2 separate regions of the Homo sapiens genome follow, and region 1 is linked to region 2. Evidence: fine-mapped expression QTL. A gene starts in region 2. The other region holds a variant in brackets. All regions are shown on one strand. Distances are from middle to middle.

Region 1 (16,182 bases), 190 kb before region 2:
CAGCAAGTAAAAAAAAAAAAAAAAGTATATAAGATAGACAGATATTCCCAGCCTTTCTCACGTTCCCACTTGGTAAGGAGGATTTTTAACTAGGTATATATATATTTGTTTTACAAAAATAGCATCACACTCTGCCCTAAGTTGTGTCTTTGAGTATGCCTGTCATGTCTAATGTTAAGTCATGCTGTTCTTTTCACATTTCTGCTGGTGGCAAGGCATTCTATTTGTGTGGATGTACAGTCTGCCCTCCATATCTGAGGGTTCTGTATCTATGGAATCAATACTGGAAAATATTTGAAAAAAAAATGCAACAATAAAAATACAAATTTTAAAATATAGTGTTAACAACTATTTACATAGCATTTACATTGAATTATGTATTACAAGTAATCTAGAGACGATTTAAGGTATGGGAAACTGTGTGTAGTAGGTTATATGCAAATATTGTGCCATTTTATATAAAGGACCTGAGCATCCTCAGATTTTCGCTTCTGTTGGGGGGTCCTGGCACCAATTCCCTCCATGAATAGTAAGGGACAGATGACTATACCATAATTTAAATGATCCTATATTGGTTGGCTTTTATATTGTTTACAGTTTCTAACCAACATAATCACTATTATAAATACTATGATATAAAGACCTTTACGTATATTAATTTGCTCACTTGGCTGAATACTTCTTCTGTATTAGTCCGTTTTCACATTGCTATAAAGAGTACCACCTAACACTAGCTAATTATAAAGCAAAGAGGTTTAATTGACTCACAGTTCCACAGGCTTAACAGGAAGCAGGGTAGCCGGCTTCAGGAAACTTAGAATCACAGCGGAAGGTGAAACAGAAGCGTACACGTCTCACGTAGCAGCAGGCAAGAGCGAGCTGGGGAAACCGCCATTTATAGAACCATCAGCTCTCGTGAGAATTCACTCACTATCACGAGAACAGCTTGCGGGAACCGCCCCTGTGATTCAACCACCTTCCAACAGGTCCCTTCCTGGACCTGGGGATTATAATTGGGATTGCAATTCAAGATGAGATGTAGGTGGGAACACAGAACCAAACCATTCAACTTCCATGGGCTAAATGCCGAATTACTAAATCCAAGAATTACTACACCATTACTAAGGTGCAGGGTAAAAGCCCCTGAGAGTAATAATTTAAGCATACAATTAGAATAAACCTGTATGGCAGACGCACCTGAATGTGTGTTTCAAGCTAGGGAATCCAGGAGTGGCCAACCCAGAGATTCATTCCTTGTTTATGAGAAACATCTGAGTCCCCGTCCCGTCCCGTCCCGTCCCGTTGAACATGGGCCATAAGGAAGGATTGAGGCCCTGAGTTTGGGCGGCGGGGGGGGGGGGGGGGGGGGGGGGGGGGTACCTGAAAGTTGCCAGGTGGAGGTCGTTAAGGGGAAGCTGTTAACTGAAAATGCTATATAAACTACACGCTGTTTGCAGGCCGTTGTGTTTTTCCTGCCCAGCCTGCCACCACTGGCCTGGATATAAGGTGGATATCTTGTCCAGCCCGGTGCCACTGGACTCTCTCCCCTGTATGTAAGCCGCTAATAAAACCCTATGTCTTGTTTGCTGGGTTTCTGGCCTCTTGAACCTGGTGTCTTCCCTAATGAGGTTAATAAAGGTTCGGCACAGCAAAAGGTGTCATGTAAATACCTTTAAGGGTTTTGGCCTGAATTGCAAAATTGCTCTCCCAAAAGGCTGTAGCACTCTTCTCCTACAAGTAGTATGTAAGACTCTGTTTCTCCATACCTCCCCCAAGGCTAGCTATTATTCTTGTAATCTTTGCCAATCTGATAAAAAAAATTGATTTGATTTTTTTGTAAGACTTTGATTACTAATTAAGGATGGACATGTTGGCTTCTTGTTGAGCACTTGGTTATCTCGGCACACAGGAAATTTCTTTTCTTTTTAACTCAAACACAGGATTTGAGGTTCCTGAACACCTGGTATAACAGAAAACTGGTTGGGCACGGTGGCTCTCGTCTGTAATTCCAGCACTTTGGGAGGCTGAGAGGGGAGGATCACCTGAGGTCAGGAGTTTGAGACAAGCCTGGCCAACATGGAAAACCCCTGTCTCTACTAAAAATACAAAAATTAGCCTGGTGTGGTGGCACACACCTGTAATCCCAGCTATTTGGGAGGCTGAGGCACGAGAATCACTTGAACCCTGGAGGCAGATGTTGCAGTGAGCTGAGATTGCGCCATTGCACTCTAGCCTGGGTGACAGAGAGAGAATCCATCTAAAGATAAATAAATAAATAAATAAATAACAGACAACGGCTCCCTCTCATTCTCCCCAGTTGATTACAGGACCTAGCAATGTCCTGTAGAGTAAATTCTCCTCCCAGCCTGCCTAAGTGACAGCCCATTACTCAAGCTGAGCAGGGGCCCACCTCTCAATCGTGCTGTCCAATCCCAGCTCCTCTTTGAAATAGCAACTTGTCTGTAATGGGAATTTTCAATCCTGGCTGCATATCACCTGGACTAAACATTTTTTATTCTTTAGTTTAAATTTTTTTTCTTTTAAGAGTACATAATATATTACTCACGTTTTTTAAAAACACAGAGGGAGATTCAGTTAAAAGTCTCCCTATTATCTGTGGCCCCCATCTGCCCCATTCCCCTCCCTATAAGCAACTGATGTTACTAATTTCTCATGGATCCTTCCAGAGATATAAACAGATATTTAAAAATGCTCTTTTTGGGGACCCACGCCAGAATTTCTGAATCAATTTCTGGGATGAAGAATCTGGAAACTTGAATTTTTTTGAAAAGCCCACAGTATTGTTGAATTATAATCAGGGTTTAGAGCAACTTCTTGAGTATATCATTCATTTATGCATTCAACCCACATTCATTGAGCATGTGCTTTTATGTGCCAGACACTGTGCTGGGTGCCAGGGTGAATCAAACAAAGTTGCTAGTCTCATGCAGCTTTGATTATAGTGCAGGGAGAAAGCAGAAAAAACAAACTGTAATTATTGAAAAATTGAGAAGTTCTATGATGAAAACTAAAGCAAAATAATGGAAAGTCTTCCAATTGCTTTGATCACAACTTGAATCTCCTTCTTTCTCATTTAACCTTTCTTACCATCTCCACTGGAGAGCAGGTGAGAGACAGAAAGAAAAAAAGGCAACATTTTTCAGGAAATTAGATTATTCCCAGAGCCCAAATTCAGAACAAGTTTGAAGCTGGTGCCCAGGGTTCTTCCCATGTGGTATTTATTTCTCTTCATTAGCGCTGATTGTTGAATTCTTCATAATGGCTTAGAAATAACGTTAAGAAATGGCAATTTGCTCATTACTCGGAAATAGAATGTCGAATTTCTTCTTTCTCTTCTACAATTCAGTAAAGCCTATGCTAAATCATTGTAGGGGCTCTGGGAAGCCTACCCGGCATCTGAGAACTTGTGGGGAGCAGAGGGTGTCTCTTTCAGAGTCAGGGTAGCACCTAGTGTCTCCTAGAGGGAAAGGCAGCAGGAGGTCCACTTGCCACTGACACTTGAAAGATTCAATTCTACAAAAGACTAACATTATCAACATGTGCCAGGCACTGTGTGGTAGGTACCATTATTATCCCACTTAAAAATAAGGAGGAGGCCAGGTGCCGTGGCTCTTACCTGTAATCCTAGCACTTTAGGAGGCAGAGGCAGGTAGATCACTTGAGGTCAGCAGTTTGAGACCAGCCTGGGCAACATGGTGAAAGCCCCATCTCTACTAAAAATACAAAAATTAGCCAGATGTGGTGGTGGGGGCCTGTAATCCCAGCTACTCAGGAGGCTGAGGCAGGAGAATCTCTTGAACCTGGGAGGTGGAGATTGTAGTGAGCCGAGATCACGCCACTGCACTCCAGCCTGGGTGACAGATTGAGACTCTGTCTCAAAAATAAATAAATAAATAAAAATAAAAATAATTAGGAAACTCAGAGTTAAGCAGCTTATCCAAGTCATCCTGCATTCAGACCTAGGTTTGCTAGGTTTGCTGACATCAGTTTGGTATACCCCTACTACCCCTCAAAGTTTTGCCTGGAAACTTAAATGAGACAATCTATCCATTACGTTCTCCAGAATGGAAGCTGCCTTGTTTTTTTTTTTGTTGTTGTTGTTTGTTTGTTTGTTTGTTTGTTTTTTGAGACGGAGTCTAGCTCTATCGCCCAGGCTGGAGTGCAGTGGCGTGATCTTGGCCCACTGCAAGCTCCATCTCCCGGGTTCACACCATTCTTCTGCCTCAGCCTCCTGAGTAGCTGGGATTACAGGTGCCCGCCACTACGCCTGGCTAATTTTTCTTTTTTGTATTTTTAGTAGAGATGGGATTTCACCATGTTAGCCAGGATGGTCTCAATCTCCTGACCTCATGATCCACCCGCCTCGGCCTCTCAAGTGCTGGGCCTTGTTGTTTTTAACTGGCTAGACTCACCTAAATCTGACAGCTACAGACTCACATCCACCATTTTTTTGGAACCAAACTGATGAGAAGAAAGGAGGCAGAGGAGCGTAAAACCATGCAGTAAAGCCTGGAATTAGCCTGCCTGTTGCAAGCTGGGGCCCAGAGTGCCCCATCTGATACCCATGGGCCACACTGTGAGAAGTTCCTGAGTCAGCTTCCATTGTTAGTGCTCAGAAACTTGCTCATTTTCTCCTCCATATAACCATGAGTCACAGGAGGACTTACTCCTGTTACTATAGCGTCAGGCACAGAGGAGGTACTAAATGTGGAATGAATGAAGACATGACAGAATGAGCTGCCTCCCCTTCCCAGCTGCCTCTTTCAGGCTGGACCCAATCTGTGTGTCTTCAACTGCTATTCATTTTGCATTTACCCTTGCCATTTCACACTTAATTCTCACACCAGTCACTGGGATAGGAGGTATTAGCCCACTTTACAGATGAGGAAAGTGAGGCCTACAGTGCTTATGTGACGTCTGCACTGTTTGGAAACAGCTGGGGTAATTCCAGCAGCCCCAGTTCTGCTCCCTCCTCTTCCTTCCCCATCAGCCCTCCCTAAGGCCTCAGCAGACCTACAACCCAAATCCAATCTCTCCTCTTTAGCTGTGTCCCACTGTTACAGTTGCTGGTTTCTTCAAAGAGTTGTTTTTGTTTTGGTTTGTTTTAGAGATGGGATCTTGCTATATGGCTCAGGCTGAACTCTTGGGTTCAAGCCAATTCTCCCACCTCTTCCTCCTGAATAGCTGGAACTACAGGCATGCACCACCACATCTGGCTGGGGTGGTTTCTTTCAGGATCTTAATTCCTAATAACCAATAGATTTTAAACTGGCAGTGTCCCCAGGGCTGCTATTGGGCAATAAGCTTCTGCACTAACTCTATTTTGCATACTTTAATGTGCAGACAAATCACATGGGGATAATGTCGAAATATAGGTTCTGATGCATTGGACTGGAGCAGGATCCCAGATTCTGCATTTCTAGTACACTCCCAGGTGAGGAGAAGCTGCCTGTCTGTGGACCACACTTGAGTAGCGACAAGGCACTAATTCTCATTAGGCCCTGGCCTAGAAACAAATGTGTTTTGTTCCTCATTGTTAAAAGTTAAATTGTGTCCCTCCAAAAAGCTTATGTTGAGGTCCTAACCTTCAGGACTCAGAATGTGACCTTATTTGGAAATAAAGTATTTGCAATGTAATTAGCTAAATTGAAATAAGGTCATCCTGGAGTAGTGTGAGCCCCTAATTAATTGAATAAGACTGGTGTCCTTGAAAGAAGACCTCATGTGAAGACAGACACTGGGAGAACACCACGCAAAGATAGAGGCAGAGATTGGAGTGAAGCATCTACAAGAAAAGGAACATCAAGGACTGGCAGCTGCCACTAGAAACTGAAAGAGAGAATAGATAGAAGACTCTCCCACAGGGAACCAACCCTACCAACACCTTGATGCTGGTCTTCTGGCCTCTAGAACCATGAGACAGTGTCTTTCTACTATTTTAAGCCACCCAGTTGGTGGTACTTTGTTACAACAGCTACAGGAAACCAATACACATGTGAGCCCGAAGAAAATAAAAATTAGCCAAGAATGAGAAAGTAAAAATCTGCCTAAGGGATTGCAGAGATTTGGTCAAAGAATACAAAAGTTTCAGTTACACAGGAGGAAAAGTTTAAGAGATCTATCGTACAGTATGGTGACTATAGTTAAGAACAATGTATTTCATACTTGAAAATTGTGAAGAAAGTAGATTTTAAGTGTCCTTGTCACAAATAAATGGTATGGGGTTAATGCATGTGCTAATTAGTTCAATTTAGCCATTCCACAATGTGTACATATTTTGAAACATGTTGTACACCATAAATATGTATAATTTTTATTTGTCGATTTTAAAATGAGATTTGTGGGAATAAAAAGATACATGTTAAAAATTAAATATAAATTTAAAAATTCTGCCTAGCCATTCATCAGACTAAACACGGATTAGGCAGAATAAGGCAATTAAGACAACAGAAAAAGATAAGACAGAGAAGAATGCCGGCACAAATACATTCAACAGCTGCGTGGATAGGAGACAATATTTCTCCCCAGGAGCCACAACATGTCATAGCAAACCCTTCTCTGTGACTGTTACTTCTTACTCACTGAGGGACTTTGTGCTCTAAAATCATAGACTATTAGAAACATCACCATCTGAAATCATTTCAGTAAGAATGAGATAGCCCACTCTGGCCTGGAGAATCCAAGTCACTTTGACACAAAAAAGCAGCATCGATTTCCAACTCCATTACAGAGTTTCAGATAAGGAGTTTCTAGACACATTTCATGTCTACCTTCACTTGGTAGTTTCCAGGGAAACAGCAGCCTGCCTCCACTTTGCTGTTCAGAACTGATGGTCCCTTTATACACAGCCTTGATTTGTTTTGTGCTTATAAAAACTCTGCTTCATTTCAGCTCTCCCTGACCTCCATACTTTCCCCAATTCCTATGATAACTCCGTCTTCCTTTGTTTGGTGAGACTCTCCGTGATTCTGTGGTGTGTGATCTCCCTCATTACAATGTGTCAATAAATTTGATTCTGTCAGACTACGTGGTTGTCCCTGATGGTCTTAGGCTGGTTGGGCTGAGACACACTAATTTGATTTCCAGGGCTTACCATGTAGTAATGGCATCTTACAGCTGGGAACATCAGAAGGACCAGCTGTTAATGAGCTTGGAATTCTACCTCTTAGTTCTTTTCTTCTCATCCCACCTTTTTTCTCCTTTTCACTTCCAACTGAAACTTTATTTTCCTTAGATCCATTTCTAGTCCGAAATCACTGCACCTTGCATCCCTACATTCTAGGAAAAGTCATGGAGTGACCGAATTTAAGATCTGCCGGTCACTGGCAGCTTAACTTACAATTTCTAATTGTCAGTTTCAATGTGTGTAGAATGGGAATAATAGTACTCAACTCAGCAGGTGGTTGGAAAGATCAAATGAGATAATCCACAAACAGCACTTAGTGTGAGGCCTAGTGCATAACGTGCATCCTATAATATTAGCTGTCATTATGTTGTTGTTAAATAGGACAGGCCCACAGGAACTGGCTCTGCCCTCTTTTATGCTCTTTTCTTCTACCCCCATGGTAAGACATTTGTCCCCCTTACAGAGAGAAGACAAGCCCCACCCCTCAGAGAGTCCCCCCACCCCTCAGAGAGTCCCCCCACCCCTCAGAGAGTCCCCGCACCCCTCAGCCCTGCCTGAAAATGACCCAGCAGAATTTCTCCAAGTAAGATTCAGGGACTGGGGGCAGTGGTTCACGCCTATAATCCCAGCACTTTGGGAGGCCGAGGCAGGAGGATCACCTGAGGTCAGGAGTTTGAGACCAGCCCCTGGCCAACATGGTGAAACCCCATCTCTACTAAAAATACAAAAATTAGTTGGGCATGGTGGTGCACGCCTGTAGTCTCAGCTACTTGGCAGGCTGAGGAAGGAGAATCGCTTGAACCCAGGAGGCGGAGGTTGCAGTGAGCCGATATCATGCCACTGCACTCCAGGCTGGGCAACAGAGAGAGAATCCATCTCAAAAATAGAAAAGAAAAGATTCAGCAATCACCTACATTAGCATCAA[G/A]TGACAGAACTTGTCAAAAATGTTCATTTCTGGACCAATGGAATCAAGTCCTCCAGGTCCAAGATGAAAGTAAATAGTAAGGGGCCCTTGGGAACAAGGCTGGAAGGGTCTTTGAGACCAAATTACCAGGACTGATGACACTCATCACCCACCACTGTCCATTCCTTCACCCAAACAATATGGCACGAGCCCATCCTGAGCACAGCACTGTGCATGACTCAGACACACAGGGAGGTCAAGATAAGTGAGCCCTTATCCTCATGGGGTTTATAGTCCAGTGGAGAAGAGAGAGCAATAAGCAGTCAAAATACAGGGTGCTGGGTGCAGAGTGCACGGAGAAGAAATGGGCAGGACTGTGAGAGACAGACAAGGGGCACTCAATTCACATGGTACGAGGGGTCACAAGGCTTCCTGAAGTAGCATCTGAGCAGAGCCCTGCACTCTGAGCGTTACCCAGACGGAGGTGGGGAGGGCATTCCAGGCAGAGGGAGCAGTCTATGGAAAAGCTAGGCAGAAAGAACAGGTTTGAAGAATTGCACATGGCTTTGCATGAGGACCATGGAGTGCTAGGGATAAGGGAGGTGAGCCTCGCAGTTGCCCAGCAAGCAGCACCAGATGGGGAAAAGGCTTGCAGACCAAGACACATAATGATCTGGGCTTTAGTCTATAGAGAAGCTTAAAATGGGGGTGGGGGTGATGTGTAAATCTGATTTACATTTTCAAAAGATCACCCTGGATACTGTAGAAAATAATTAGAGGGGAGCAAGGATGGGTGCCTTTAGAAGGCTATTGCATGGTAGAGGGGAGTGGTGGTGGATTGCACTACAGTAATACCAGTGAGGACGAGAAAAATGCATAGATTTCAGAGCGTTTGGAAGCTCTGGCCAACGGGACTTGATTATTAATGAGAGGTGCAGAGTGTGTGTGTGTGTGTGTGTGTGTGTCTGTGTGTGTGTCTGTGTGTGTGTGTGTGTGTGTGTGTGTGTGTGTGTGTGTGTGTGTGTGTGGTGTTTGGGTGGGGTGGTGCTAGCTGCAAGGGCATGAAGCCTGAGTTTATAAAGGGAGTGTCTGCTGTCACAGGCGTTCTGGGGAAAGGGCTGTAGCTCTGCTCCCCTTCGTGCCATGCCTTGCTCCCACCAACAGCTGTTTCTTTCTACCTGGACAACAGATGCCTGAACATCCTAGGACCTATCCTCTTTTTAGAGATTACACGTTTGTGTTGTAATAATCCATTGTGTGTCTGCCTCCTCTGATTGAGCTGTGAATTTCTTATGGCAGGGACTGGGGCTGGGAGAAGTACTGACATAGCACTCACTAAGTTCAGTCTTCAGACCACTAAATTGGGGGTTAGGATTGAACATGCAGTTTCTGGGGCTCCAACTCCAGACTTCTAGAATCAGATTCACTTGAAGTAGGGCCCAGGAATCTGCCTGTTAATCAACACCCCAGGTACATCTGAAGCTTAAGAAGTTTAAGATTGTGCTTGTTACATGCCAAGAAAGATTCCTTTGGACTATAAAGGGAGATCCCTTGGACTATAACGTCAAGAGGATATACAGTAAAGAGGACAAGCTCTGGAGTCAGCCTGAGACCTATTTCAGATCTTCATTGAACCTCAGTGCTCCCATCTCTAGACTGGGGTACTATGCCCACTCCTCAAGGATAAGTGGGCTACTGTAATCTGTGAAGCACAGGATGTGGCACAAGGCACCCACTCAATGAACACTGGTTGAATAAACTTGCAAAAGACGGTGACCGCAGCATGCAAGCAGATTTGTTTGCATTTTCGTCTCAGATTTCCTTTGCTACTTCATAGTCACTAAATACCAGTTTGACTTGAACAGCAGTTACATGCTAATGACAAAAAGCAGTGGCGTGCTTGTTCTCAGAAACCTGAGAATCCACTGGCTCTGTTAAAATGAAATTCTACTGAGTTGACCACAAGGACATTTCCTTGTCCCCAGAAAAAGACTCGCCTAAATTAAGTTGCAGTGTAACCTCTTCCAAATGTTGCCCAGACTGAAGAGTGCTTTCATATTATTCCTTTATCCAACTCTCTTTCCATCTGGCCTCTTTGTAAAATTCTTCCTCCGTTGTTTCAGAACTAAAATGACACCTTCTTAGAATTCCAGCATGCTACTTCTCAGTAGAAAGTGTGGTATATCAGAGGCAGCGGGCTTGGGAGTCCGTTGGGAGGCCTGATTTGGAAGGCCAGCTCCAGCAGTTACAAGCCGAGCAACCCTGAGCAAGTCACGTAACTCTTCTAAGCCTTGATGATAATCTCTGTAAAGTGGGTATGACAACAGTTTCCACATTATAGGGCTATTATGAGGATTAAGTCATCCTTGCACAGCCCTTAGAATGAAGGTTAGCACAGAGTAAGCACGTAGGTTGGCTGTTTTCAGATGTATTCAGTGGCAAATATGTGGCTGGTCCCTGAATCTCTCGGCTTTGTAGACTTATATGCTCTTTAACTCCACTCAGTGAGGCCTGTCTCTCTCTCTCTCTTAGGTCCAATTTCCATGTTCAATTCATAATCAAACCTACCTCAAAAAAAAGAAGTGAAGAAAATTTTCGCCACTAATGTGTTATTGAAGTGTCACCCTCAAATAATGAAATTCAGAAAATATGATGAAGTATTGAGTTTATTTCAGCACAAAGCTTGAGGATAGCCACTTGGGAAACATAGACTCCAAAGGAATGGGGTCAGTGCTCCAAAGTGGAGAAGTTAAGGTTTCACTTATAAGGCAGAGACAGAGAAGTGTAATAGGGTTACAACATTTTCCATGCAAGGTCAGTACATGTTACAGTGATTTGATTGGTTACAGCTTGTTGCATGCCAAGGAAGGTTCCTTTAACATTCCATAAGGAGGGGTAATGGCCTGGAAAGGTCTTAACTCTGGCACCATTCGGTCCTTCCGAATCATTTACAGGAAAAACCAGAAGTTGCAGCTGCATGCTATATGACTCAGGTCACATGGCCGCATTGCTCTCAAGGCTCAACATAATTTAAAGTTCCGCCAGCTTTAGGTTTGAATTATTTAATTTCACAACAGAAAGTAACTTTTCCTCTGACCTTTTCTGGAAGAATTCGTGGTTTCCTAAATTCCAGCCCAAAACTTATCTCAATGCTGCCAAACATATCTCCATGAATCAGCCAAATTCCTCAATAGGAAGGAAGCTTTTAAAAATAAAAATTAGACCCATTGACTGGGCATAATGAATAATAGAAGTAGTAGAAGGAAGTTATAATACTCATCCTTCCACTCTTAATTTCTGCCCAGGGTTCACGGCAAAGCAGCTTTGTGGCCCAGGCATTTTGTAAAATGGCTGTGGCTAGTGGCAGAAGGCACTTTGTGGCTCCTGCTGGACTAGGACTAGGCTGTCCTGAGCAGCTGCAATTAAAATCAGAGCACTTGGGTAGAGTCTGAAGTCTGTCTCAACAGGAGGACAGTATGCCAGCTATAGCTGCTCCCTTCTCTAGGGCTCATCTCCTTAGAACAGCGGTTCTCAAACTTTGCTGCATTTTGGAATCCCCATGTTGGAAGATGGGGAGTTTTGAAAAATCTTAATGCCCAGGCCAATTACTTAAGAATTTCTGACTTGGGGGGAGAGGGTGGGGTGGGGATATGTAGGACTCAAGCATCAGTAATAGTGTTTCAAATTTTAATGTGCATATGAATTGCTTTGTTAAAAATTGTTTCAACGTTGAATACAGATTCAGATTCAATAGGTCTGGGTTGAGGAAAGCGATTCTGCATTTCCAACAAGCTCCCAGGTGAGTCTTCACTGCTGGTCTAAGGAGCAGAATTTGGGTAGCAAAGTCTTAGACAGTTCTTCCTCCCACCGCATCCTGTACATCAAAATTAGTGCCTGACCCTCACCGGTCCATTGCCCAAGGTTGTAACATCAGAGATGAAGGCCTTTTCATTAGTTTATTTATTTCCAGGACCCAGTCTAAGGAAAGTGAGCTAATTATTATGGATTTATCTGCATTATCTTGTTTAAGGAGAAGACACTTAGAAAAATGGGAATTGAAATTTGTTCTTGCCATCAGATCTTGCTGATCTATAAAACACCATTATCCTTATACTTATTATTATAGAACTTTCCATTTTGAGCTTCTCCTTTCTTCCAGCTCCCAGGTCCTATAATAATATTCTTTAAGGACTTGCCCACATGGAGCAAAGCCAAATGGTGCAATGGTTCAGGAAGGTCACTAAGGGCCAAATGGTGTGTGCTTAAATTCTGGCCCTACCACTTAGTGGCTGTGTGAACATGGATGATTTATTTAACCTCTCTGTGCCTCGGCTTTCCCATCTGTAAATTGGAAGTTATAGTAAGTAAATGAATATATCTACAAGTAAAGGCTAAATGCTGTCCCTAGAACCTTATGTGAATTAACTCTCTTAGTCCTTATAATAATTTTACCAGGTTAACTTATCATCCCCATTTTGTAGATGGGTTAAGGATTTTGCCTGAGGTCACACAGCCAGGATTTGAGACCAGGTAGCCTGACTCCAATACTCATCCTGTTAACTACCAAGATGGACTATCTCTCACATGTAGCAGCTAGAACTACAACGGTGGTCTGCTAACTCTCAGCAAGGGGCTCCAGGACTGGGTCATACTTCAATTGTCTGCCATAGTCAGCCACAATCCCTCAATCCCACAGTCCCCCTGCAGTCTCGCATAAGGCCCTAACACCTACGCAGCCACTGTGCAAAGAACATGCTCCACCACCCCCCTTCTATGGGCTGACAACTGGACCATCTCAGGCAAGGTCTTTTGCATCAGCTCAATTCAATGAATCATCCACATGGCTGTTCACTTTCAGAGCACATTCTAAACACTGCTCTGAGTCAGCCTCCTGTGCTCAGTTTTGGAGGTGCTCAGATGAATTCAAACAAGCCCCTGCTTTAGGGAGCTCAGAGGGGCCTCAGGGAGGAGACAGATGTGTGAGAGATGCCTATGGTAACTCTCAGGAAGTGTTTAAAAGGGGAAATGAGGCCAGGTGTGGTGGCTAACGCCTATAATCCAAGCATTTTGGGAGACCGAGGTGGGCGGATTACCTGAGGTCAGGAGTCTGAGACCAGCCTGGCCAACATGGCGAAACCCCATCTCTACTAAAAATACAAAATAATAATAATAATAATAATGAGCTGGGCGTGGTGGCGCATGCCTGTAGTCCCAGCTACTCGGGAGGCTGAGGCAGGAGAATCACTTGAACCCAGGAGGCAGAGGTTGCAGTGAGCTGAAATGGCACCACTGCACTCCAGCCTGGGTGACAGAGTGAAACTCTGTCTCAAAAAAAAATAGAAAAATAAAAAATAAAAAGGGGTAATGAGCAAAGAGAGAAAAGCTCTGGCTGGGCACATCAGGGAATGCTTCTAAGAGGTAACACATAAGCTCAAGAATTATCAGGCAAATTAATGAATTAATCAGTTCACTGATAACACCATGCCTTGGTGCTAAAGATACAAGGGTATACTGGATAATTTGTTTCCTCCTCAGATCTGTTGGCTACTTCTCCCACCTGCTCTGTGCCCCCAGGAAGCTGACCCAGATGGACTACATTAGCAGGCTGCTTTGCCCTCTGGCTTCGGGTTGTGTTTGGCCAGGGAGAGGCATCAAGAGGAGATTAGCAGGTGGAAGAAGAATGAGGTTGGGTGTTTATTCCCTAAAGCATGGCCCCACAGGGTTGCCTAAAGTTGATTGCATTCCTCCACCCAAGGCCTTGGCTCCTGTTGGGTGACCCTCTCTATAGCTCTTCGAGTTCTAGATTTCTTCACTTGTCCTTTCAGACCTATAAGGAGGCTTCCTGCAGGGATTAAAAATTCCCCAGATGGAGTAAGAAAAAAAGCCATTACTTATTTATTCAATCAATGCATATTTATTGAACATTCAGATATCAGACCCATTTGAATGAAATGCTGAGCTTGGAAGTTTTAATAATGGTGGGAAATGGGGGGAAGGAATAAGTCAGAAACAGAGGGGTCATCAAGAAGGACAGGTGAGGGTTAAGAGCTGCATGGACATCTGTTTGTTCACCTTTCACCCCTCCCCCTTCTTTCCTGTTTGAGTACATTCCATGTGGATCAGGTGGAACCAAGCACACTTCACCCTATTCCCACCCTATCCCCAAAGAGGTAGACAAATGATCCAGGCTCATCTAATCAGAATACAGCATTCTCCAGGCTAAGAGATGAGTTTATAGACCCATGCAAGGCCAGTCAGAGTCCTTCAACAAGATCTGATAAAGGGATACTGGGAGAGAGGGGAAGCCAGTATTTAATAACACCAGGTACCAGGTACTATTTTCCAAAGCATTATTGGATATTTCTTCACAATGTCTTTTCAAAATGGATGTTTACTATCCTCATTTTACAAATGAGAAGACTAAGACTTAGGGAGGTTAAACATCTTGCCCAAAAACACAGAGCTAGAAAATGGCAGAGCCAGGATTCCACAGTCCAAACATTGCCTTTACTCTGTTGTTCAGAATACAACCATCGCCACAAAAGATATACTATTCAGTAATTTGGCAATTACTTTCCTTAAATTCAAATCAAACCAATACCCAGCCCAAGTCTGGGAACTGGGAATGCTCACAGAGAAGAGAAATCTGAGGTGGAGGCAAGTCAATGCCTTTAAAAATCCAGGTATCAAGGGGAGGACAGGTGGGGAAGCAACATGTCCCTGGATCCAGGGACTCTTGGATGACACAGATTGCTGGCTGGTAGATCACTGGCCAAAGAGTCAGGAACCTTAAGCCTCATTTTGTGCACTCTTCAAATTCCTAGGACATCTTTCCCCAGAGCAGGGATGGAGGAAACAGGGGAGAGAACCAAAGACCATGAAGAGTTTCGAGAAAGGCTGTCCTGATGCTCCCATCATGCTGCTGATGTCAGCCTAAAACATCTTGGTGTGCCAGGAAGTAAGGAAGTCCTTGAAGAATGATGGAAACTTGTCAAAAGAACATAGAAGACAGCTTGAAGAGGCTACTACAGGCCATTTCTGGGACAATTTGAGCATCACAATAAACAGCAATAGTAGTGAATTATTAAACCATACAATAAAGTAAGAACCTGGCCAGGTACGATGGCTCACACCTGCAATCCACTGAGGCGGGCGGATCACAAGGTAAGGAGATCAAGACCATCGTGGCCAACATGGTGAAAACTCATCTCTACTAAAAATACAAAAATTAGCCAGGCATGGTGACATGTACCTGTAGTCCCAGCTACTCGGGAGGCTGAGGCAGGAGAATTTCTTGAACCCAGGAGGTGGAGGCTGCAGTGAGCCGAGATCACACCACTGTACCCCAGCCCCCGTGACAGAGCAAGACTTCGTCTCAAAACAAACAAAAAAAAACAAACAAAAAAGAACCCATGAGTCCATACTGATACATGGATAATATGGGAGAAGGAAACTCTCTTTCTTAAATTAGAACACCAACAAATAAATGTAGAAGGAATGATGGAAATAGAAAACCATCACTTGGCAACTATCATAATAATAATTGATTAAAGCATCCATTGATATGGATGTTAAAACTAGTGGGTGAAAAATTTAATAATTAAGAAGGTATTTATATAGCCTCAAAGGCTCTCTGTCAAGAGATAATAATTAATTATAAAGGGGAAAATAGTAACTTTATAGTGAAGAAAATAACATCACCTTAACCAAAGTTAACATCCTCAGTAATGAGAGAGACGAACATTGTGTGCCTCCTGAAATCATTCACTAAAATGAGCACAATGTACTTTTATAATATTCCTGCCAAAAATCCATAACCTGAATCTAATCATCTGAGAAACTCAAGTCACACTGAGGGGCATTATGCTAAATGACTCATACTCTTCAAAAATGTCAATGTCATTAATGACAAAGGAAGAACTAGAACTATTCAAGATGAAAGGAGGTCAAAGAGACATGAAACTGAATACAACACATCATCCAGGACTTACTCTTTCTATAAAGGGGAGTATTGGGACAATTGGTGAAAAGATAGACAGAGAAATAGATACCAGATAGGAATACGAATAAGAGCTATACATTAGATAATAGTGTTCTGTCCATTATAATGTTCATAAATTGATAATTTTAC
Region 2 (16,182 bases):
GCTGAAAAGCAAAGGGAGGAAGTAAAAAGACAGGAAAAAGAAGAAAATTAAACACAATGGAAGAGTGACAATTGGCAGAAGTAAAATCAGACTTTAGAAACAATAACAGGATGTCATGAAGCAGACCTCCTTACACAGCAGAAAAGAGTTTACCATAACTACAAGGAATGAATGAGAATAGAGTAGAAAAGTCTGAGAGCACTGAGGAGGAGGGAGGGGCAGACTAAGCCCAGCACATTTCACTACCACTATGACAGAGTCTAAAAAGCATGCCAACTGAAACAGCAGTGTTCTGGAGGCATTTGGTGTAATGATTAGCATGTCTACAAATAGAAGTAACCTCAAAGAAACTTATTGTATTAAAATATAGTATATAAGGACTCCGACATCTGGTAGAAGCTAAATTATGCTCATTATATTTTTACTAAGGCAGATAAAAAATGCAATATGTTCAAATATTTTATCATCAAAAGCAATCAAAGTAAATGTCTCAGAGCTTAGGAGAAATGATTTTGTTACCTACAGTCTTTTATCTACAAGAACCTCTTATTTACTCTTACCTCTTATTGTCTGTCTGAGGTAATTTTAATATATAACTACTTGTTTTTATGTGTTTTCCTTTACTTAAAGCAGACATAAACCTGTGAGTCAAAGACAAGGCTACAGTCCTGTAAAGCTACATACTAACTAATTCAGATGACTTGGGCAAGATGCTAATAAAATCTACACTCAAGGATTTAGTCCCTATTTGTTCAAGTTATTTTATACCCAGACACACCAAAGGAAACCAGACAAGAGTGTGGTTATGCAAACTCATCACTATTTTTAGAAAAATGAAAACAATCTCCACTAATAATGGCAAAATATCACATCATCTCAAACTTTCAAGATCGTGATCTGTAGTTCCACCTGACCCTCTGGATGACCCTATAAATTGCTGACTTTATATTACTTCAATTTTCCTATCCACAAATTTGATCATAACAATTTGTCACAAATAAAAAATAGGCAATAAATGACTATTAAGGTGAAAAACAGCAAATTAATTACTGATAAATTAAACTATACATATAAGTGTTTGACTTACCTGGAAGCCATATTTCCCAAATTTCTAATATTTACAATTTAGTCAAGAATTTAGAAGTGAAGAGACAACACAATCAAGGAAAACAATTACCCAAAAGTTTATTTAATAGAGAGGTGAAGAGTCTGATAAGGAATCACCTTTCTGTCCTCCTTTTAATTTCCCTTCCCTTGAATCTGAACTGGTTTTAGTGACTTGCTTGACCATTACATGCAGCAGAAATAATGTTCTGGAACTTCAAAAGCTAGGTCATAACAAGTCTGTGGTAGGATGAATAATGGCCCCCAAAGATATCCCACATTCTAATTCCCTAACCTGTATATATGTTACATTATATGGCAAAAAGAATTTTGCAAGTGTAATTAAATTAAGGATTTTGAGAGAGTGAGATTATCCTGGATTATCCAGGTAAAACCTAAATATAATCATGAGGGTTCTTATAATAGGGAGGCAAAAAGGTCAATGAGGGAGCAGAGATTTTAGTGATGTGTCCAGGAACCAAGGAATCCCAAAAGATGAAAGAAGCAAAGAATACATTCTGCCCTGGACTCTCTAGAAGGACAGAGCCTTGCTGACACTTTGATTTTAGTCCTTTAAGACTTATTTTGGACTTTGTACTTTGACAACTCTAAGAGAATATGTTGTTTTATGCCACTGTATTTGTGGTGTTACAGCAGCAATAGAAAACTAATACAGGCCGGGCGTGGAGGTTCACGCCTGTAATCTCAGCACTTTGGGAGGCCGAGGCAGGAGGATTGCTTGAGGTCAGGAGTTCCAGACCAGCCTGGCCAACCTGGCAAAACCCCACCTCTACTAAAAATACAAAAATTAGCCAAGTGTGGTGGTGTGTGCCTGTAGTCTCAGCTACTCAGGGAGGCTGAAGCAGGAGAATCGCTTGAACCCGGGAGGCAGAGGTTGCAGTGAGCCAAGATCACACCACTGCACTCCAGACTGAGTGACAGCACGAGACTCCGTCTCAAAAAAGAGAAAGAAAACTAATACAAAGTCTTACAGCTTCTACCCAGCCCCCTTGGAACATTTTCTCTGGGATCCCTGACCTAAGTATTACAACCATGCTAACATTGTCATGCTGGTGAGGCCACATCCATCTCCTTGGGTCAACAGTTCCAGTTGAGGCCAGCCCTCCAGCCATCCACCAAAGTACCAGACACATAAACAAACCGATGTTGGACCTTCTGACCAGACCATCAGCCAGCCAAAGTTTATGTAATGACCTCCATAGATACCATAAGAAACAGCATCCAGCTGAGCCCTGCCTATATCCTTTTTTTTTCAATTTTATTTTTTTATTTCCTATGAACTCTGTACCTGCAACTGCCTATATTCTTGATCCACAAAATCATGAGCTATGATAGAAGGGTTGTTATTTGAAGTCACACGTAACTCTGGACATGTTATATGTAAGTGATGATTAAACACTGTTAAACAGCATATATGCCTTTCATAATGGAAAAAAAAAAACTTTACTTGATTACTTGATTATCTGTCTTCTACTGGCAGTAATCCCTAGTAATAAGACCATTCCAACATACCCCGTAACTCTAAAGAACTCAGAATTAAGCTTGCTGAAATATACTACTGTAATTAGGTTCTTTCCATATTGGTAAAATAACTGATTGTAGCAAAGCTTCATTTAACTGAGTGTAACTCAACTTATAGAAGCCCATGGCTCATCAGAGATCTCTCACTCCTCTTGCCTCAATTCATACTTCTTATCCACGTCCTTGTTCTTCCCCTCTTGCCGGGCCTAGGTGGGGCTATACTTCCCTTATTCCTTTTTACTATCTCAACAAAGGCACTGAAATATCTTTATTCACGTATCTTTATTTGCAGTATAAAATGTTTTTCTTGCCCTTTTTCTTATTGGACAAAAGCAAACTATTCCCAATCCATTCCAGAGGCTCATAGCTTAAAATAATTTATATTTAGGCTAGGCACGGTGCTCACAGCTGTAATCCCGGCACTTTGGAAGGCTAAGCTCGGTGGATCACCTGAGGTCAGGAGTTCGAGATGAACCTGGCCAACATGGTGAAACCCCACCTCTACTAAAAATACAAAACTTAGCCAATCACAGTGGTGCATGTCTGTAATCCCAGCTTCTCAGGAGGCTGAGGCAGGAGAATCGCTTGAACCTGGGAGATGGAGTTGCACTGAGCTGAGATCGCACCACTGCACTCCACCCTGGGCAACAGAGTGAGACTCTGTCTCAAAAAATAAAAAAAATTTAAGAAAAGAATTTCTATTTTCTCACATAATCCTGAGCAATGGGCTGAAAAAAAATAAGGATAATCTTGTTAAAGGTCCAAGATCTCTAGTGAACAGGGATTCCATAAGAAAGCCTAATTTATTTTTAAGTGTTTTAGATACTCAATTTAGTATAAGCTCTTTATCTTTCAGTCTTTCATTTTGTCAACGTCCTCTTATACTATATGGCAAGTTCTCAAAACAAAGCTCTTCACCCTACCTTAAACAATCACAAAAAATGGGGGACTACAAGATTAAAGTTTAGAATTATTTGGTTAATGTATACAGACGTAGATAAATGGTAAAAAATGTCAAAAGCACACAATTACCACTCACATAGAGTAATCAAAAAATGCAAGCTAATTGAGACCTAACATTGATAGAAAAACTGCTCTGTTCACCTCAATACATCTTTTATTTGCTATATGTAAAAACAATCTCATTTTTTAAATATCTTAAGTATACATATTATAACAAAAATATTCCCTAAGAGGCTCCCTTTTTCAAAACATATCTCTCATTGTACCTCTCCAATAGCCAGTTCTTGTCTCTCTGTGTAAACTCTCTGATGAGCATTAATTACACCACCTTAAATAATGTGGAAGCCAACCTCAAAGATGTACCCCCGATGATTCCCACTCCCTTGTATTCACACCTTGTGTAGTACTCTCCCACAATGTGTCAGGACAAAAGAGATGGACTGTCACTTCGAAGACTGCGTTTTAAAAGTCTGTGGCTTATAGTATACATATTATAACAAAAATATTCCCTAAGAGGCTCCTTTTTTCAAAACATATCTCTCATTTTACCTCTCCAATAGCCAGTTCTTGTCTCTCTGTGTAACTCTCTGATGAGCATTAATTACACCACCTTAAATAAGTGTGGAAGCCAGCCTCAAAGATGTACCCCCGATGATTCCCACTCCCTTGTATTCACACCTTCTGTAGTACTCTCCCACAATGTGTCAGGACAAAAGAGATGGACTGTCACTACTAAGACTGTGTTATAAAAGTCTGTGGCTTCCAGCTTAGGTGCCCACAGGTGCTGTCTTGCAAACACACTCGCTCTCTCTTGCTCTCTCGCTCTCTCATCACTTGCTCTAGAGGAAACCCACTGCCATGTCATGAGAATACTCAGGCAGCCCTGTGGAGGACCACATGGGAGGGAATTGAGACATCCAGCCAACAGCCATGTGAGTGAGACTTCTTGGAAATGGATCCTCCAGCCCCAGTTAAGACTTCAGATGATGCCACCCCAGCTGAGAGCTTGATTTCAACTTCTTAAGATCCTGGGCCAGAAATACTCAACTAAGATGCTATAGCATTCCTGAGCCTCAGAAATTATGAGTTAATACATGCTTGTTTTAAGCCACTGTGTTTTAGGATAATTTGTTATACCGCAATGGATAACTAATACAATGAGCACTGTCTATTTTTCAATACCAAATTGCTATATTTTAAAAGCTTTAAAAAATAATTATAAATGGAAATATTAATTACAAAAATTGGGAAGAAAATTTGTTTTAAAAATTTTGGCTAACATTGAAAGGCCACTGTAATAATGTCAGCTTGCCAGTACTACTTGTAAAAACATGAATAATGCTCTATCAGCAGAATATGGTCTGTTTCTGGAAGAAGAGAGATCAGGCTGAGCAGGTAAATTGAAGGCGCAAACTCAACTTTTTTTTAAATTGGGAAAGAAATTGGTTTGTAATTTTAAAAATCACAATATTCTATTTAACTATGATAAGATATCCCACAAGGTCTGCCTTATCTATTACGAACTGATTCCAAAGCTTTATCTCATCACAGATTATATCACATGCCTACTGATAAACATATAAGAAAGATAAGGGCAAATGTGCCAAATTTCAACAGCAGATTCCACTGCCATATCAAAGCATGGATGATATTTTTTCAGTAACATTTCCATACCAAATCCAAAACACTTCATTAGTTTATACAAGCACCCTTTCCAAAGACACACAAGATTGCCTATGGCAAGAAATAGCCCTTTAAATAGAATTAATTTTGTTAGAAAGTACACTTAGTACACACACACAATACATCGGTTGAGTACTTCAAAACATTATTCAAAAAGCAACAATAAAAGAAAACATGGGAGTTTTTCATTTATCTGGCTGGAAAAAAATTGTTGATTTCAGCAATGGAATGAGCTGTACGCATTCCCAACATAATAAAATCCCTTTTACCTTAATGATTAATGAATAAGGTAATTTCCTAAGTGATGATTCTAGTTATCTCCATAACTATATGTATTGATACTGAAAACAGTAAGTGAACACCAAGACTACATACACTAACAAAGCAGCAGCATCTGTGTCATTTGATTCATAGGACAATCATTTTGTCATCGACATCAGCAAAAATAGCTGATTTAAACTTTGATGTTCTTTAGCATATAAAGAGGAGAGATAAGCATCTGACTAACCATTGTTTCAAATATCCTTGACTGTTTCTCCTGAGCAAAGAAGACAATTTAAATTACTAATTTCTCTCTCATATTAGTAACATAACTAAGTTTAATTGATGCTAATGATCTCCATTGACTAAAGTGCTTAGGTCCTTTTCAGAATATTTAAAACCACGTTAAATTTAAAAATATTATCTTTATTAGGAAATGTAGCATTGCTACTGCAATACTGCTGGCATGTAAAAAATAATAATGTATGAGAAAAAAATTATTCAGTCACCTTGCAGGACATGTTTTTCAAGAACTGCCACAAAACTATATTCATAGGGCCCTCCAATCTTGTAACTTGTTGACAATGCAGAATTTCCAAGAAATTACTTGGAAAAGGTAAAATGTGTGTTCAAATAGTCTTGTCAGTGCAGAAAGATTCAAAAGTTAATGTTCTAGTACATGACTGACTATATTATTTTTCCAAGGAGCATATTTTCAGAATTGACTATTTTTAAACTGCATACTGAGTGCACACATAGATTACAAATGTGCTAGTGTTTCATTATGATTGCATATAACATCATGATTACACATTGAATAACGGAATTGATCGGACGTTACATTTTCCTGTAAAAGCACTGTGGGTAAACAATGTCTGGAATCAATCATCCACTATAAATTGGTCCACAATTTCCTGAACTGAGGGGGAAAACATCTGATTAAAAGCCACAACTAAAACAAGTTTCTGAAGTAGTACAGATAACGTCCTGCTTACATGAGGTAGATAATTCTTTCCTCCATTCCTGCACATCAGCTAAAGATATACTTTCAAGTCTGGCAAATCAAATGGCATGATCCGAATCAATGTGCTCTACACTTTGGAATCTATGAGATGTTTATGTACCTACCAAGTTTAGAGAGGAGAGTAAACTTTTTTAAAACTTTCAAACACATCAGAATGTAATACAAACTGAAGCAATGTGTTTTGTTTACATAACTGTATTTAAGTGGCAGAAATATTTTAAGACATCCATTTTAGTCGTTTGCTCCTTTCATCCTTTTTATTTTCTGAACTTTTAGCTTTTTCACCTAGACTCAAATTCTGCCCTACCCCATTCTGGACTCCTTTTAGAAATATCCTATTTTAACATGCTAGTTTAAAAATCGTTTTGCTTTCATCATTCCCAATTACTTTTGAGCATCAGTCTGACTTTTACTACAGAGCCACAGATTTCCAAAAAATATACCTCCTTATTTATTTCATTCTTTCAACCTCTGGGAAAAACCAAAACTGGAGTTTAACTTGAATCTGTCTTTCCATTTCTGGAGAAAATGTTTCCTTTGGCTGCTGAAATTAACGCAATCAGACATGTGTGGAAACAAGCAGCTATGAGCATCCCTGACTTTCGAAGCTACACCCCTTCTTTTGGCTACCCACCCATACGTCTTCATTTGATAACCGTTCAAAAAGTTTCTTCCTGCCAGGCGGGTTTGCAGCACTTTCTCGGAGCAGGCACAGCATGCCACCTGCACGGGTGCACGCTCGCAAGAAAGCAGCAAGGGCTAAGGGACAGGAGGGCTGGGGAGGGGAGGCACGGGGCAAATCAAAACTCAATCCCAACAGCGTTAACTGGCATTTTAGGCCGAAGCTCCGGATTCGGAGGCTGGGGAGGAAGTAGCTAGCGCTGGCCTCGGCTGCCTGGCACGACCCGCGCCCGTCCTACCTGCCTGGGGGAAACTCGGGCGGCGGAAAGTCTCCCCGCCCCCAGCCGTCCCAGGCGTGGGGCCAGACAGGCGAGGGGGGCGGAAGGGGGGCGGCGGCGGGGGTCCAAGATCCAGGGCCGCAGCGGGCTCCCGGTGGGCTGGCGAGAAGAGGAGGGCGTCGGGGCCCCCGGGCTCGCCCCCCACCTGCCCCCCTTACCTTGGGCAATGGCAATAGACTCGAAGCGGTGCAGCTCTTTGAGCAGGCAGCTCCTCTCCGTGGAGTGCAGGCTGTAGATGAAGTCGCGCGCGCCCTGCGCCGTGTTCAGCGCCTCCATGGGCTCCTTCTTGGGGTGCGTGCCCAGCCGCCTGGGGCCGCCCGGCAAGCCGCCGGGGGGCGCGAGCGCCAGCAGCCCCCGCCCGCAGCAGCACCAGGACGGCGGGCGGGGCGCGGCGGCGGCGGCCGGGCCCGGCCTCAGGCTGCGCGCGGTCCGGCTCCTCAGCAGCGGCAGCAGCCGGGACATGGCGAGCTGAGGAGCTGGGACCCCCGCGGCCGTCCGGCAAGGCGGTTTCTGGCGCGGCTGAGGCGAGAAGGAGCTGGGCTCAGCTCGACCCCGCCCCGAGGTCCTCCTGCCAGGCAGCCGAGGCGCCGGGCACCATGCACTCCGCGGGCCCGCGCGGCTCTCGCCTCCTGTTCCGTCCCCACTTCCTTTCCAAAAGGCCCGCGGCGGCTCCCGCCCCTCCGATGGGAAAAACTTTCTCTGAGACGGCCGGGCCCGGACAGCGCCCGGAGAGGGCGGGCGGTCGGTGCGGGCGGGCGCCTCCCGGCTGAGGAGGAGCGGCGCGGGCGGGCGGGGCGGGCTAGTGTGTGTCTCTGTCAGTCTGATCTTCCAGAGGATGAGTCAGCCACGCACCGCCCTCCTCCAGCGCCGCCCTACTCTCCCGCCAGCTTTCTCACCCTCTAGCCTCCCCACGTCCCCACTCTGTAAGGTTCCCGAGCCCTCAAAGCAGCCGCGCTCCCGAGCCGCAGCCGCCGCCGCCGCCGCTACCCCTAGCGGCAGCAGAAGTGGGAACGGGGCGGGGCGAAAGGGGAAGGAGGTGCGGGGGGGCGGGGAGGTGTGTGAGCGAGGCTGCGCAGGCGCAGTCTGCAGGCTCTCGGGCCGCCCTCCCTCCTAGGGGAGGAGCGTGCACACGCGTCCCCTCCCGCGCTGGTGCGTGAAGGTGGAAGGAGGTAGGGTGCGCCACCCTGTGCTGGCGTTAAACCTACAGATCGGAATAGGGAAAACGAGCTCTGGACCCCTCGCCCGCCAGGGTAGTACAGCTGCCACCCGGCCCCCAACCTGGGGCCACATCTGGAGCTTGTTCTGAAAGGTGCCCCGGCGTGCGGCCCCGCTCTGGACAGGCGGAGAGCTGCGCTGCCACCCCAGCCCCGACGGGATCACGGCGCTCTGCTCCGGAACGAAGCGCCCCAGCTGCGCCCTTCGCCAAGTCAGCGCCCACCGCCGCTTCGGCCGAGCAGGCCGGCTCTAATGCAGTCGCTCTGGGCGCCCCAAAGAGAAAGCGAAGCCAGTTCCACCCCTGCCCAAGGAGGGTCTGAGACTGAGCCCTTGACACGAGAACAGTCCTCCCCGTTCAGATTCCAGCAGCTGGCATGCAAATTGTTAATGCTAGAGGCAGAGGCAAGAATGTCATAGACCTTTCCTAGTGGTTGCTTGTGATTTTTTTGTCTCTGTGCTAAAGCGGGAAGAATAATTTGATTGTCCACGATTTCCCCTGATCCAGGTCCTAGGCATCTTTCAAGGCCCAGGTGAAAGGTCTCCTACTTCATTAAGCTGTCCCTAATCTCTTCTAAGGGAGGAGATCTCTGCTTTATCTGAACCTGTCTAATGACGCTTAGGCACCCTTAGAGAATAAATCCACTTAATAAATCTGCTGGAGCGTAATCAAGATCTAAATCCCATCCTTATCATAAACAGTGCTGCACTCAGCCCGGAAACTTGTAGGTAGTAAATGTGCTACATGTAAGTAGAATATTAAACTGAATAATGGAGGATTGTTACCACTAAAGCCTCCTACTTCTCTAACTCTGGTTCTCAAAGTGTGTCCCAGAGCTTTTTAGACGTGAGAAATAGTGGACCCCACTTCACACCTCCTGAATCAGAACGTAGACATTGGACCCAGTCATGTGGGTTTTAACAAGCCCTCCAGTAATAACACACACGAAAGCTTGAGAAACACTGATGTCTCTTAAACATTGAAAGGAATCGCTTCTTTTTTAAATTCCAAGGTGATGCCTCTGTGATGTAATAACAACAATTAAGAATGCTCTCTGTGGAAATGAAAGCTTTTTGAGTGCATAAAGTATATCTTCCTTGTCTTTGAAACCCCCTTCATTCCCTAGTGTGCACTGGAATCCTCTGCAGAGCTATTTCAGTCTCAGGCTCATGGGAGTACCACCCCATCCCCCCCACAATTTCCTACCCCCAAGATATTCTGATTCACTGGGGTGGATCACAGGCCCCAGACCTGGGAAGTGAGGTTTGAAAAAAGTTCTTCAGTAAGAACCCATTCCCAACCACCTCCAGAATAGTAGTTTAGTGTGTAGCCTCCAGAGACAGACTGTGGAAAGTTCGATCCCTGGATCAACCGTCTCCTAACTATGTGTTAGTATTAGATTGTTATAGTAGTGATCCCCAATGAACTACACCTTCTATTATCCGCTCCGTTGTGTGGTCCACCTCTACATTGACTGTGGGCTTGGCTATTTGACTTGTTTTGGTCAATAAATAGGAGGACATCATAAACGTGATATGATACATGTTTGCTCATTGGGGTTTGCTGTAATGCTTTTGCTATATTACTATAGAATATTTAATTCTATTATAAAACAAGAGAAACTAAAATGTAGAAGCAAGTCACTTATGAGAAAGGTTACACATAGAATGAATGGATATGGGTTGAACATAGATAAAAAGGATGGAACAAATGAAAATGCTGCTTTAGATAGAGGCAGAAAGACAAAGTGGACTTTTAAGTATTAATAAGGTACAGATCATACTATCTTCAGATTTACAGCCATGTCATCCCTAAATTGCATACCTACTGGTAACACCCATTGTAACGCTATTATGGCCTCATGTAATCTCTTCCCAAGAAAAGCAGATAAACCCCCAGCTACAAAGCCAACTAATGCCAGCTACCATTATAACCAGACACACTTGCCCCTCAGCTCTGTAACAGAACAGACATATGTTGAGCCCAGGCCCCTTCAGTCTGTTGAGTCACCTTACTTACTCTCCAGTCTGGTCCTTGTAGCCACACTATGTGCTGAGAAGACTGGATGGTGGAGAGGGATAAGACATGAGAACATTGCATAAAACAGAATTTAGGTGCTATGGTCCTTCAGCCTATCCTAAGCTTATTAATCTACCCTATCTCTTTCCCCTTGCTTCTCACTCTGTTTTATGTTGGTTGGTAAACTCTTCTGGTTATTATTGCTGCTCTTTGGGTAGACACATTATGCCAAAACTTAGTAGTTTAATTAGCCAATTTATTTTGCTCTTAATTTTGAGGCTCAGAAATTGGGGAAGAACTTACTTGGACAGTTATTTTATTGGAGTCGTTTATGTAGTATCAATCAGATTTCAACACAACTGCTGTCATTTGAAAGTTCAGCTGGGCTGAATAGCTAAGATGGCTCACTGACATGGCTGACTGGTAGCTCAAATGGGGCTGAGAACCAGAGCACTTTCACACAGCCACTCCAGCATGGTGATCTTCTCACCAGACAGCTGGCTTTCCCCAGAGTGAATGTCTAAAAAGAAGCAGGCTTGTGGCGTTTTCTGACCTATCCTTGGAAGTCACACAGTATCACTTCCACTGTATTCTACTGGCTATAAGCCAACCCCTAGGGCCAGCCCCTATTCAAGGGAAAGGGATATAAACCCCACATCTTAATAGGAGTAATGCCAAAACCTTTGAGGATACGTTTTAGAACCACCAGATAATGTGATTTAAGCTTCTTAATTTGGCCTATAAGCCTATCTATTTCGTGACCTGTAGGTGTATACATGGAGGCTGCCATTGCATCAAGGTAATTTTCCACATGGAAAAATTGCCTCGAAGACATTTACCTTTTGGAATCCAGCTGCTGCATAAAGAAGTCTGATGTATCCTGCTGGAAAGACCAAATGGAGGAGGAGGCCGTAGCCAACAGCCCCAGCTAACTGCCAAACATGCATGACAGCATCTTGGACCATCCAGGCTCAATTGAGCCCCAGATGACAGCATTGGGGTTGAGAGCACTAGCTCTAGACTCAGACTGCCTGGATTTGAGTCCTTATACTGTCATTTCTTAGCTGTGTAACCTTGAGCTGATCAACCTTTCCGTGGTTGCCCATCTGTTTAATGGGAATAAGAACATGTTCAGTTTGCTCACCTGTTAAATATAGATAAGGGCATCTGCTTTGTAATGTTATAGTGAAACCAAATAATACATGTAAAGCATTTCAAACAGCACCTGATACATGACAAGCATGCAATAAATACTAGCTATTATTATCTAAATGCCCACGGACCTCTCAAATCTCTACGATTATGTCTTTGGACCCTCATTTGAGAAATGCCCACCTAGCTATCTGTCATTTAATACATGGATGTGTATTAACTGCATCCCCTAACCACTTCCTTCTCTGAACACCTGAATATCCTAAATATGAATGGATGAAGGATCTAGGGAGGGAGATAATTTGGGGATCGTTTATGGGGCTGTGGAGCAGGTCTAGATGCAGGTGGCAAAGGGGAGTTTCCGAAGAAATATGATGGTGCTGAAGAGGAAATGCTAGCAGGCTGGAGGGGCTACAGAAATGGAAGATAGAAGGAAGGAAAGCCCAGAAGGCAAACTTGGCCTGAGTTCAGCCCAGCCTGTTCTTCGCTTTTAAAGAGGACAACTGTCATACCTCGGTTAACAATCACAGTTTCCTCCTCATGAAAAATTGCTGCTGAATCATCAGTCCATGGTAAGCTGCATCATATAAATACGCTCCAGAGTTCCTGGCTTCCCTGTTGCTGGCAGGGCACACAGCTGTTTGCTGCCTGCCATTGATGAAACTTTATACACCCAGCTATTCTGCTTTAAAATTCTTGAAATTGTTGCTTTACCTAGTGGACCCTTTAATCATTTCTTCTGCCCATATTTTTGCAATTTCCTCATTGCACTTCTCATCCATCAAGCTCCTGCCTTAGTATTCTGACCCCTGGAAGGCCTCTGCCCCATCACAGTGGTGGTGAATAAATTGTTTCTTCACAATGGAAACCACAAAGTCTTATTAGAACAATTAAAGAAGACTTAAATAAGTGGAGAGAAATACCAATTCAAGATTGAAAAACTCAGTAGTATAAGATGTCAATTCTCCCTAAATGCATTTGTCAGGGTTCTCCAGAGAAACACAACCAATAGGATATAGAAATATATACAGAATGAAATTAATTATGAGGAATTGGCTGGTATGGTTATGGAGGCTGAGAAGTTTCATTATCTGCTGTCTGCAAGCTGAAGGCCCAGGAAAGCTGGTGGTATAATTTAGTCCAATTCTGATAGCCTGAGAACCAGGGGGTCACAAGTGTAAGTCCCAGTCCAAGTCTGAAGGCCTGAGAACCAGGACCACCAATGTCCGAGAGCTGGAGGAGACAGATGCCTCAGCTCAGGCAGAGGTAGTATTTTTACCCTTCTTCTGCCTTTTTGTTCTATTTCAGCCTTCTGTGTATTAGATGATGCCCACTCACATTGGTGAATGTGAACTTCTTTACTCAGTCTACCAGTTCAGATGCTGATCTCCTCCAGAAATACCCTCGCCAACATACCCAGAAATAATATTTTACCAGTTACCTGGGCATCCCTTGGCCCAGTCAAGTTGACATAAAATTAATCATCACACCAAATTAATCTATAAATTCAGTGTTTGATCCCAGTCAAAATCCCAGCTGGGTTTGTGTGTCTGTATGTGTGTGTGTGGAAATTGTCAAACTGATATGAAAATTCACATTGAAATACAAATAGATATAGCATACCAGAAAGAGGATTGATCCCCTGAGCTTGAATCCTAACTCTAACACCTACCAGCTGTATCAATTCGGACATGTTGCTTATCAATCTAAGCCTTTGTTTTTTTTGTTTGTTTGTTTTTGTTTTGTTTTGATTTTTATGAAAATCTACCTCACAGAATCATAAGGGTAAAATGAGACAATGTATGTTTAAAAAAAGAAAGACACAGTACCTAACATGTAGTAGATGTTCAACAAATGATAGGTAGCATTAAAAGGCCTCAAGATGTAAAAACTAGTGTTAGCAATAGACCGTATATCTAGAAGTGTCAGAGACTAATTCAACTTTAAAGCTAAAAGAAAGAGAACACAACTAGGATCTCTGTTTTCTCAGCTTTCCTTCACTCAACAACCCCTTACATTCTAGCTGTCCAGGTTTCAAAGGAAGAAGTTTGGATACATAAATTTGGGAGTCATCAGCATCCAGGTATCATTTAAAGCTATAAGCTGATCAGGTTGCCATTGGGGTAAAGATAGAGATGAGCAGAGAGTCTGGTCCTGACCCTGGGACTCCTCATCAGTGAGAACTTGTAAGAGGCACATGAGGCAACAAGGTAGAAGGAAAACTGGAGACTGCTGAGGTTTATGGCCTGAAACTATGTTCACCTAATGTAAGACTGGTCATTTTTGTTGTTGGAAACTTGAATGATTTTTGTAACCTTCTCCTTTGCATTTGTCTCTCTTGCTTGAATTGTTTATGATAAGTATACACAATTTAAACAGAAACAAAGAAAGTAACTATGGAATTATTTTGGTCTAAAATACCTGAGAAATCCTAAATAAATCTCAAACAGACAATCTCCTCTTTTGAGTCCTTTGTACTCCTCTACACCATTCATTCAATACGGCTTTTCATCATCACCACTGGGGCACTTCATTTCTAAAGATTTTATCTAGGCTGGGTGTGGTGGCTCACGACTGTAATCCCAACACTTTGGAAGGCTGAGGCGAGTGGATCAATTAAGGTCAGGAGTCTGAGACCAGCCTGACCAACATGGTGAAACCCCCCTACTAAAAATACAAAAATTAGCTGGGCATGGTGGTGGATGCCTGTAATCCCAGCTACTTGGGACGCTGAGGCAGGAGAATTGCTTGAACCCAGGAGGCAAAGGTTGCAGTGAGCCAAGATCATGCAACTGCACTCCAGCCTGGGCAACAGAGTGAGACTCCATCACAAAAAACAAAAAACAACAACAAAAAAAGATTTAATCTACCTGCTAAAAAATGCCAAGCACAAGGCAAGACATAGTATTTCATGAAAACAGGATGAAAAATATAAGAAAGGGGCTGTCACTTGGAAACTCAAAACTTCTGTGCTTAATTTCATACTCTATGAGGCTCATGTTTATCTGCCTATAATATCACATTTATATGCAACACCTACAATAACACACCTATATGCAACAAGTCTTTATTCCACACCCAACATAAAAAGTGCATACGTGCACAAATACACAGAGAGACACACATACACACACATACACATGCATGTACAGGCACAAACACACAAACAACTACCTGACTCTTCAAGGCACTATTTTGTAACTTTTTCCCCTTCCATGTTGACCTTTGCCTTTGAGGTTGGGGAAGGGTCTTGATTAAAGTAAATATAAGCATAGACATAAAATGCCCTCTCTTCAAACTTTAAAGTCAAATTCTTAGTGAGGCTTTGAAATATTTAGATGCTGCAATAACTATTTTTTTAATTTTTAATTTTCATGGGTACATAGCAGGTGTATGTATTTATGGGGTACATGAGATGTTTTGAAACAGGCATGCCATGCTTAATAATCGCATCATGGAAAATGGGGTATGAATCCCTTCAAGCATTTATCCTTTGTGCTATAAATGATCTAATTTTACTCTTTTATTTATTTTAAAATGTACAATTAAATTATTATTGACTATAGTCCCCCTGTTTTGTTATCAAATATTAGGTCTTATTCATTCTTTTGAACTATTTTTTTTGTACCCATTAACCATCACTGCCTCCCCTACACACACCCACACTACCCTTCCTAGCCTCTGGTAACCACCCTTCTACTCTCTATGTCCTGGATTTCAATTGTTTGATTTTTAGATCCCATAAATAAGTGAGAACATGCAATGATTGTCTTTTTGTGCCTGGTTAATCTCACATTATGTTAATAACATAATGACCTCCAGTTCCATTATTGCAAATGACATGATTTCATTCTTTTTTATGGCTGAATAGTACTCCATTGTGTATAAGTACCACATTTTCTTTACCCATTCATCTGTTGATGGACACTTAGGTTGCTTCCAGATCTTGGCTATTGTGAATAGTGCTGCAATAAACATGGGAGTGCAGATATCTCTTCAATATACTGATTTCATTTCTTTTGGTTATATACTCAGCAGTGGGATTGCTAGATCATATGGTAGCTCTATTTTTAGTTTCTTGAGGAACCTCTAAACTTTTCTTCATAGTGGTTGTACTAATTTCCATTCCCATCAACAGTGTACAAGGGTTCCCTTTTCTCCATATTCTTGCAAGCACGTGTTATTGCCTGTCTTTTGGATATAAGCCATTTTAACTGGAATGAGATGATATCTCATTGTACTTTTGATTTGCAATTCTCTGA

What was found.
Region 1: its variant is fine-mapped to the expression of TMEM65 in lung (TOPMed, PIP 0.98).

The regions. Positions count from the first base shown.
Region 1 is chr8:124,170,660-124,186,841 of GRCh38, forward strand. FER1L6-AS2 (FER1L6 antisense RNA 2) reads right to left here and starts at 863. Exons shown (of 5, transcript NR_103547.1): 1 at 769-863. The variant G/A (reference allele first, on the strand shown) is at 8,073.
Region 2 is chr8:124,364,160-124,380,341 of GRCh38, forward strand. TMEM65 (transmembrane protein 65) reads right to left here and starts at 8,542. Exons shown (of 7, transcript NM_194291.3): 1 at 7,695-8,542. The coding sequence starts at 7,998. RefSeq lists silencers at 7,565-7,614, 7,625-7,754, 7,805-7,934, 8,065-8,334, 8,455-8,684 and enhancers at 8,409-8,703, 8,915-9,104.